Linked DNA regions of Homo sapiens: region 2 is linked to region 1. Evidence: fine-mapped expression QTL. A gene starts in region 1. The other region holds a variant in brackets. All regions are shown on one strand. Distances are from middle to middle.

Region 1 (5,398 bases):
TTATATATTCATGAATTTGCTCAACCGATATTTATTAAATACTGGCTATGTGCCAGGTGCATGACATAAACTGTACAGTCATTCAAACCAAGTTTCAAGTCTAAAAGCCCTTTTCCTTTGAAGTTCGTTTCCCCCTGAAGAAAGTTAGATCCTTAAGTTACCAGTCCCAAAGCCTCACCTCCCCCAATCTTAGGCTCAACACTAATTATTGTAAGTAGTTTTCATTTTCTGTCTTTCCTTTTAGACTTAAGGCTTCGCCAAGGTCTCCCCGGCCCCCAGCAAACTACCTGCTATGAAGTAGATGCTCTGTAAATAGTTGTTAAGCACAAATTGCCTTGTGCTATGGAGACTGGGCCTGACATGAGTTGTAAAAGTATCAACAAGTGTATTGACAATGGGTATCGGCAAGTCTTTGCCCTTCAAGCCAGAGAGCTGCTGGGCAGGACAGATTATCTCTGTTTTCTCTGTCACTGATTTACTACCCTTGACTTATGCAATGACATCAGCTAATATGAAGAACACTGCACTGATGACCTCAAAATAACTGAACAAATAGTACTCCCTTTCCCCTCCACCAATGGCATCAACATTCTAAAAAAATTTAAGCATCTTAATAAGCGGTGTCTCTGCAAATATATTTCTTCCCTGAAAACATGATAATATTCTTTGTAATATTAGGCAATTTAGAGTCCCAGTGTAACTGTACATAACTCTACAGAAAAAAGACATATCTAACAAGAACTAGAATTACAAAAACTCATTATCACTGCATTGCACATGCTTCACACAGACATGAATACTATACCCACATATGAGGGTAAAAAGATAAGTGAAAGTAAAAGCTATGAGTGAGTGTGTCAGCCTGATACATTATGGTCCCAAGATGACAGGCTGGCCAAAATACTCCAAAAGAACAAACACACAAAAAGAAGGTAGAGGTAAATTTTTATAATGTTTGTATCCTGTTGGGAAATATAATGTAATGGGCACAGAGTGTGGACTGTAGAGTCAGACAGTCAGGGGTCAAGTCCTCATACCAGCACCTACTACCTATACACTCTGGGGTAGTTTACTTAACCTCTCTGAACCTGTTTCACCATCTGTAGAACATAGTGGTTTCAAGAATTAAATACGATAAATGACTACCATAATTTGGCATCTGAGGCATGTACCAATGACAGCCAGTTCACTCATTCATCCCGTAATTATGTATTGAACGCCTACTATGTCTGTCTTGCTCACCAATGCATTCCCAGCCCCTATCACACTACCCGTCACTGAGGAGACTCTCAAGAACTATTTGTAAGATGAATGTTAAGTCTGTGCTGTTATGGTGCATGCATGCTGGATTGAATCCATCCTCCTTCTGACCATGGGAAGAATGCCAATCAGAGTAGAACAAAGTAGGAAAGTAAAGGAACCTTCACTTTAGTGTTGAACAAGAGTCTATTATATACTAGAAAAAACTTTACAAATTTACAGACTTCTGAAAGTTAAATGATGATTCTATTGTTAGTTGATCAAACATCAGTCATTGAAAATGTAGTAATACGTTACCTCAAAAGAAAAAAAAAAGGTTAGAGTTTTCTTAACAGATAATTCTTTTTAAATCTGTAAGAATCTGTACGTCACTAAAATAAAATCCTGTCTAGATTATTAAAATAAACTTTGTTATCAGTTATATTTTCATGGAAAATATTCCTGTATATATTTTAATTAATAGCCACATAGATATTTGCTTTTTCTGTCAGATCATGTATCCCTTTAAAAACCATTAAAGCTAAAGAAAAAAATCTTAAAATATAATATTTACTCATTGCTAATAAAGGGAACACAAATTTGGAAAGACTCAAGTGAATATTTTTTCTTAATTTAAACTGAGTACTTTGTCTCTATTAAGCTAAGTTAAAAGAATTTGGGAGGACAACCTATGCTACCAAGAGAATAATTTGTTTCTAGGAATCTGAGTTAAAAGAATTTGGGAATGCAATCTCTGCTACCTGGAGAAGAAAGAAATGTCGTGGGTCCCACACCATTCTCAAGACTCTGTTTCAAAGCATTGTTTCAATACGCTGATCCAAACCCTGATAACCTGCCATCTTTTTAATAAAATAATTTATAAATTTAATGAGAATGTTTCACTTTCCATACAAAAAACAGAAAAATGCTTTGAATCAATGCACTTACTGGGATTTGGATTACTGACTGGTGTTCCTATTGATTCTTGTAGGAGTTATTAATCCTGATTGCAACACACAAGTGAACAGACAAGAGAGATAAATTTTGTGGCTTGTGGGAAATGAAGGAAAATGGGCCTCATTTAGTCTGTGAGCATACTAATTGAAATAGATGTATGAAGACTTCACCAGTGTTAAAATAACATTGTTTTTATAAATCATATGATATAAACTATATAACAATAAAATAGAATGTTAAACATGTATTTAATCATCATCATAATTTTGATTCAGAAATCTATAATTTATTAGTTATCTTAATAATGTTTAGAATTTGTTGAACATTTTACCTTATGTGAATTAAGGACAAAATATTAAAGCTATTCAGCACAAAAAAAGGGTCTTTCTGATGTGTATTTTTCATAGAATAGGGTATGAATTTGTTATTTTGTTATTTTGATTAATGTCTAAAACAAAAGATAAACACATTATGATATAACATTACTATTGATTTTAATGGCCCCTTTTGAAATAGAATTATGTCATTGTCAGAAAACATAAGCATTTATGGTATATCATTAATGAGTCACGATTTTAGTGGTTGCCTTGTGAGTAGGTCAAATTTACTAAGCTTAGATTTGTTTTCTCACATATTCTTTCGGAGCTTGTGTAGTTTCCACATTAATTTACCAGAAACAAGATACACATCTCTCTTTGAGGAGTGCCCTAACTTCCCATCATTTTGTCCAATTAAATGAATTGAAGAAATTTAATGTTTCTAAACTAGACCAACAAAGAATAATAGTTGTATGACAAGTAAATAAGCTTTGCTGGGAAGATGTTGCTTAAATGATAAAATGGTTCAGCCAACAAGTGAACCAAAAATTAAATATTAACTAAGGAAAGGTAACCATTTCTGAAGTCATTCCTAGCAGAGGACTCAGATATATATAGGATTGAAGATCTCTCAGTTAAGTCTACATGAAAAGGATGGTTTCTTGGAGCTTCCACAAACTTAAAACCATGAAACATCTATTATTGCTACTATTGTGTGTTTTTCTAGTTAAGTCCCAAGGTGTCAACGACAATGAGGAGGTGAATTTTTTAAAGCATTATTATATTATTAGTAGTATTATTAATATAAGATGTAACATAATCATATTATGTGCTTATTTTAATGAAATTAGCATTGCTTATAGTTATGAAATGGAATTGTTAACCTCTGACTTATTGTATTTAAAGAATGTTTCATAGTATTTCTTATATAAAAACAAAGTAATTTCTTGTTTTCTAGTTTATCACCTTTGTTTTCTTAAGATGAGGATGGCTTAGCTAATGTAAGATGTGTTTTTCTCACTTGCTATTCTGAGTACTGTGATTTTCATTTACTTCTAGCAATACAGGATTACAATTAAGAGGACAAGATCTGAAAATCTCACAAACTATAAAATAATAAAAGAGCAGAATTTTAAGATAAAAGAAACTGGTGGTAGGTAGATTGTTCTTTGGTGAAGGAAGGTAATATATATTGTTACTGAGATTACTATTTATAAAAATTATAACTAAGCCTAAAAGCAAAATACATCAAGTGTAATGATAGAAAATGAAATATTGCTTTTTTCAGATGAAAAGTTCAAATTAGAGTTAGTGTGTATTGTTATTATTAATAGTTATGAAACACGGTTCAGTCTAATTTATTTATTTGTAGAACAGTTTGTCCTCAACTATTATTTTTGCTGACTTATTGCTGTTAATTTGCAGTTACTAAAAATACAGAAATGCATTTAGGACAATGGATATTTAAGAAATTTAAATTTTATCATCAAACGTATCATGGCCAAATTTCTTACATATAGCATAGTATCATTAAACTAGAAATAAGAATACACAATAATATTTAAATGAAGTGATTCATTTCGGATCATTATTGAGTTTCAAGGGAACTTGAGTGTTGTACTTATCAGACTCTACATGTAAGAACATATAGTTAATCTGGTTGTGTGTGTAAAAACATATGGTTAATCTGGTTAAGTCTGGTTAATCATATTAGGTAAGAAAAATGTAAAGAATGTGTAAGACGAAATTTTTGTAAAGTACTCTGCAAAGCACTTTCACATTTCTGCTTATCAACTAAACCTCACAGAGATAGTTTAATAGTTTAGGCTTTAAAATGGATTTTGATTATTCAACAAGTGGCCTTCATAATTTCTTTAAGTGTTTTTCTTTAAGTATATACTTTCTTTAAATATTTTTTAAAATTTCCTTTTCTCTAGTAAAGCCAGACCATCCATGCTACCTCTCTAGTGGCACTCTGAAATAAAAAGAAAATAGTTTTCTCTGTTATAATTGTATTTGTAATAAGCAGATGAATCACATTTCTTAAAATTTGTTTTAGAGAGGGTAAGCTCTGACTAGGACCATGACTTCAATGTGAAATATGTATATATCCTCCGAATCTTTACATATTAAGAATGTATATAGTCAACTGGTTAAACAGGAAAATCTGGAACCAGCCTGGCTGGGTTTTAATCTTAGCACCATCCTACTAAATGTTAAATAATATTATAATCTAATGAATAAATGACAATGCAATTCCAAATAGAGTTCATCTGATGACTTCTAGACTCACAAAATTGCAAGAGAGCTCAGTTGTTGCTCAGTTGTTCCAAATCATGTCGTTTGTTAATTTGTAATTAAGCTCCAAAGGATGTATAGCTACTGACAAAAAAAAAAATGAGAATGTAGTTAATCCAAATCAAAACTTTCCTATTGCAATGCGTATTTTCTGCTTCATTATCCTTTAATATAATATTTTAAGTTAGCAAGTAATTTTAATTACAATGCACAAGCCTTGAGAATTATTTTAAATATAAGAAAATCATAATGTTTGATAAAGAAATCATGTAAGAAATTTCAAGATAATGGTTTAACAAATAATTTTGTTGATAGAAGATAAGACTAAAAGTGAAATTCGAAGTGGAGAGGACACTTAAACTGTAGTACTTGTTATGTGTGATTCCAGTAAAAATAGTAATGAGCACTTATTATTGCCAAGTACTGTTCTGAGGGTACCATATGCAATAAGTTATTTAATCCTTACAATAATCTTGTAAGGCAGATTCAAACTATCATTACACTTATTTTACAGATGAGAAAACTGGGGCACAGATAAAGCAACTTGCCCAAGGTCTCATAGCTGTAAGTCAACCCTACGGTCAAGA
Region 2 (5,398 bases), 36 kb before region 1:
GCACTGAATTCATACCGATCTCATGCTGGGCAGGTCACCTGTGCTGCTGCCTCTCCCCGCAAGGACTCTGTGTTTCTTTCCTGCAGTGAGAACAGTAGAATTTTATTCTGGGATACTCTCTGACCAAGCCGACGTCACAGGTGGGCTGCAGTGCCTCTGGCTGCCTTCCCACCTCACTGGCTTGGCATCCTCAGCAAAGTGAAGTCTTCATCTTTGTGATGGGAATGGGACAGTCTCCCTTGTGGACACCAAGAGAGGGAGAGGTGCCCTTGGCTCAGCTGTACAAGACCAATGTGTCATTGGGCTGGTGTTTTCCTCACACCGTGTTCCCTTCCCGGCCTCTTACAGCGAAGATGGCTCACTGGCTGTGCTGGACTCCAGCCTTTCTGAGGTGTTTAGAAGCCGAGGCCACTGTGACCTTGCGAGAGATGCTGCTTGATCCCCCCTCAATCACTTTCTGCTTACCACAATGGGCTGGGACCATCAGGTCGTCTGCCACAAGTGCCCACAGAACCTCTCCCAGCCCCTGGACCTGAAAGCGTTGCTGAGTAGATTGGACTTAAGACAAACAGCAAGTCCCCCATGAGAGTCCACTTCTTTGCCCCTGTTCCCTCAGCTTGTGAGATAACACAGGAGCCTTCTGTAGTATGTTGAAACATTAGATCTGTGCCATTAATTGGCATCGTCTCGCAGCCTGAAGGAGGCTGGATGCTGGGATCCTGTAGTCACAGGAAAGAAAAGCTTTCTTAAAAATGGGCATGCAGGTTCGTCTTGAGTGTGTGTGTGTAGGTTTTGGTAGGGAGGTGGGACGGTGGGGGAGGGATTTAAAAAAAATCTATCCCACATCTCCCCTGAACACCATCTCTCCCTCACTCCCCAAAAAAGTTGACAAAAGGGTTTTATTCTTCCCATGTAGCTGTCTGAGGAATTGACCATATCTGGGTGGGGTATGGAATGTGGGCATCCCTAGGTTCCTGGAAGCAGCTCTTATGCTACTCATAGAGATGGGACTGATTTTATTTTTTATAGCGCTTAATTCACCGTTATGGGAAATGCTTCCAATCACAAAAATTCAGCCCAGCTCGTTTTGAGGAAGAGGCAGGACATGTTATAGTTTTATACAACTCATTTCCATTAAACTGAATCAGAAGTCCTTTTTCTGGATGAATTAAAAATGTGGCCTGTGCCTGTGTAATGTCCACTCCTTTCTGCCAACTCCCTTCCCTCTGCTCCCTGCTGGTGTTGTGTATATGAAAGAGGAGTGTTTTTCTGTCATAGATGCCCTAGAGGAAATTTTGTGGATGTTGGAGAGCTTAAAGGCATTTCAATTGTTAGAAAACTGACACAGACTGTTACAGAGGAATCTTTGCCACTTTTCCCACCCAAAACCAGCCTGGGGCCTGACCTCTTCTGCTCTCAGCCCCTTTCTCTGCATATAGAAAGTCTAAATGCAGTATGTGTAGACTTTTAAAGTTTTAAAATTCAGCCTCAGGAAGAAAATCAGAAATACTGGCTGGTGAAATAAACAGTTTAGGCATCTTGTAAGCCTGCCTTTTTTGAAAAACAACAAAACAAAGTAAGTGTTGGTGAGGATGTGGAAAAATTGGAACCCTTGTGCACTGTTGATGGGAATCAAAAATGGTGCAGTCATTATGGAAAACAATATGACAATTCCTCAAAAAATGAAAAATACAATTACCATGTGATCCGGCAATTCAATTTCTGGATACACATCCAAAAAAATGAAAGTAAGATCTCAAAGAGATATTTGTATACCCATGTTTAGAGCAGCATTATTCACAACGGTCAAAAGGTGGCAGCTCCCCGAGTGTCCATTGACACATGAGTGGATGAATAAAAAGGTGGTATATACATAAAATGGAATATTATTCAGCCTTAAAAGGAAAGGAAATTCTGACATGGGCTACAACATGGATGAACCTTGAGGACACCATGCTGAGTGAAATAGGCTAGCTGTAAAAAGATAAATGCAATTCCACTCATATGAGGAACCTAGAGTAATCAAATTCATAAAGACAGAAAGTAAACAGGTGGTTTCCTGGAGCTGCGAGGAAAGGGGAACGGGGGTTTATTGTTTAATTGGTGCAGAGTTTCAGTTTTGCAGATGAAAAGCATTCTCAGGATTGATTGCACAACAATGCAAATGTACACAGCACTACTGATGTGTATAATTAAAAATGGTTATGATAAATTCTATGTGTATTTCACCACAATTTAAAAAAAAATACATGAAAATTCTTTGGAAAGTATAAGATATTACAGACAAGAGGCCTCAATTATTGAAAAAAAAGATGAAACACTGTCCTGAATTTCCCAAGGGGAACAAAATCTTGAGCATGTCACCTTTGAAAGCATCATCCTGATCCATGTGTACTAAACCAAGTCTAGTGTGATATAAAGTTCCATAGGCTGCATGTGGCATTATGTGCTACCCTTCAAAATTGATTTCAATCCAAGAAAGAGAACAAATCTCGATTCCCAAGTCTTTCCACAACTTGCTTGCTTTTCAAACATAAATCATACATATTAAATCTAACCATTGTCTATAAAAAGCCAACCACACATTTAAAATGTGTTACTGGTAATAGAGCAGCTTGAGGAGGAAGAGGATGAGGGAACTGAAGGCAAGGGGAGGGAGGTCTGTGGAGAGGGTGGGGTGGAACCTGCCAGGCTCTGGGAAGATCAAGGACATTGACAAAAAAGAACAGATTTATCATCACAGAAAAGATGAGGGTAAAAAAACAACAAACAAACAAAACAGGTTACAGGACAGGACATAAGGGCAGACCAACCGTTTAAGGAAAATAAGTCTCATTAGAGGGTTAGAAGCATTAAAAAACTTTTTTCACTTTGTCCTCTGAGGAGAATATTTCTGAAATTTCTGCTTATGGTTATATAAAATCGGGCTGAGGATTTTTTAAAACGTAAAGTTGGTAGCAGACTTTGGATATTTTCATCTATATTTGTTTTTCTGCCTTTAATAAAATAGTGTGTATGTTTCATTTCAGAAGCTATCAAAGACCACATTTTGATTGGTCCACACAATCAAACCAGAAGAATGTTCCAGTTTATTGAATTTGTCTCCTTATTTAAGAAAAAGAAAATTAAGCCAGGAGAAGTTAGCGCTCCATCCACCAGCTGGGTCTTTGATGAAGGGAAGTGAAATGAGGATTCTGCACAGGTGGGCGGTAGCTGGTGGAGTGAGCGCCCTGCAGGTGCAAGTCATGACAACAAATGGGGAGGGATGCTGTGAAGACATTGCCCCATTGTGTTAGGAGAATTCCCAGACACCCCATTCCACTCCTCCAGCTCTCTCCAGGATGGAAG[A/G]ATGGGGAACTATGAGGCGTATGCACCATCCAGGAAGAATCCTAAGTCACATTTACCCTGAAAAGCATGCTTCTGTCCATGAATGTCTTCCACCCTGTGGCTGGGGCTTGGGGGCGGGTAGGGAACAGTGTGGCTGGTGATATTTATGCTTTTCTTCATTTACCAAATATCTTGTAAATGGAACTCTTTCTTTTTTATAAGTCAGTGTTAATGAGTGTAGACCTCAGAGATTTAAAATGAACTATCTGCAAATCTGTGACATTACACTAGAATAAATGTTTTATTACCCCCTCAAATCCAAGTCTCTCTTAAAAGATGTTGAACAGAAAGTACTTAAAGGAATATCTTACATTTTTCATCCATAGTTCAAGTTAAATGATAGGGTAATACTAACACATTAGCTGTCCTTTATACATATTAATCAATAATGCAGTTTTATTATCAATAATTGATTTAAGTCTCAGTAGTGGACAATTTTAAAACAGTCTAAATGTGAAAGTTCAGCATTCTAATCGTTCACAGACAAGCAAGTTAGTGTGAATATATGACACTATGTAAATGACAATATATACATCCAAGTTTAAGTTTACAGTCCAATATAAGGTTACAATTATGTCAAGTCTTAGAAGAATTTTTTTCATAGATACGGACTTCTAACCTATGTATATCACTCTTCTGTTACTATACTTGATAAAATACATTTTGCTAGCTAGAATAGACTTATACTTAGAAAGTTCCATTTACAGTTACACAATTTAATAAAGTTTGATTAAATGAACTGGCAAAATCTGTAATGTTACAAAGTAATAAAATGTAAAACTAAAACTATGGCACATCTGAAAATCAAGAATGACTTGTTTGGCCCACATTACAATTCCTGTATACTAGAATAATAATATATGTTATGTCATAATTTTTCATAAATGATTTTTCAAAATTCAGCAATAATTTTAAATAAATGTGTGCATATATATACGTTTTGCATATAGTTACACAGGTTTCCCAACTGAAATAACTAAGAGAAATAAAAACAGAGAAAAACCTGCCTCTGTGCTGGAAGGAGGGAAGGGTGACCTGTCAATAAGTGTTTGTTGAATGAGTGAATGAATCATGCAAAATTCTAATATCTTATTAAAATAGGAGATAACCTGCCATAGCTAGGACCCAGAAATAAAGAAAACAGAGTTACTTTCATTGTATCTGGGGATCATCCCTTAGCTATTTCTCTCAGTATTTTGAACCTATGTTAATAATGGATATCAAATTTTTCAAACACCAGCAGAGGACAAGGAAGAGCTAACATTCTGACCCCAGTGAAAGTGGACTCTGGTACTTTCATTTAGTCACAGGCTCGCTCAGGGAGTCTTGTTTCTTATTCCTCACTAATAGTCCCAGTCATACAAGCACTTGAGATTATTTTGGCTCCATCCTACTTCCCTGTAGCTACTATGGCCTCCCACTCTCTCATGGACATTCATCGTATTTTGCTCTTGCAACATTCCCTCTCTTGGCCACACTCCAATGCAAATGATTTACTGTAATATGTCTCCACCTTCACACCTTGTGAGAATGAAATGAAAAATCCTACAATTAATTCCTAAGGAAAACAGTACCTTCTAATGCCACCAAAGGTATTGGAAGCAATTATTATTAATTAATAATATAATTATTATTAATTGCAATTGTCGTTGCAAACAGCTTCCAAGAGGGTGGTAGACAGCCAAGACTTTTTATTCAAATAGCTGTTTTCATTCATAAAGCAATCTACTAAATGATAATGTCATGCTTTTTGGCAACATCCGTATTTATGGGTTCTCCTTTTAAGAATTTTCTCTTACATTTGGCATGCTCAGTACAGGACAATACTTCTTAGGAAGTTTGATGGATATTTTTCTTTTGTACTTTTTTAATCAACAGAAACTACACTGATTTTGATTTGCTTAAACAAAAATTTTTTTTCATATTAACAGTCATTTTACCATAGTGTTAGAAGACACCATGGTGGAGGTACTTGCAGTGAGATAACATCCTGCATATTAATCCTTGTGTT

What was found. PIP is the estimated chance that this variant, and not a neighbour inherited with it, causes the effect.
Region 2: its variant is the best candidate, but not a certain one, in a credible set for the expression of FGB in lung (TOPMed, PIP 0.60).

The regions. Positions count from the first base shown.
Region 1 is chr4:154,559,861-154,565,258 of GRCh38, forward strand. It overlaps FGB (fibrinogen beta chain), which reads left to right and starts at 3,151. Exons shown (of 8, transcript NM_005141.5): 1 at 3,151-3,272. The coding sequence starts at 3,159.
Region 2 is chr4:154,524,258-154,529,655 of GRCh38, forward strand. It overlaps the pseudogene WDR77P1. Among named protein-coding and RNA genes, the nearest start is that of PLRG1, 23 kb to the right of the region's middle. The variant A/G (reference allele first, on the strand shown) is at 3,349.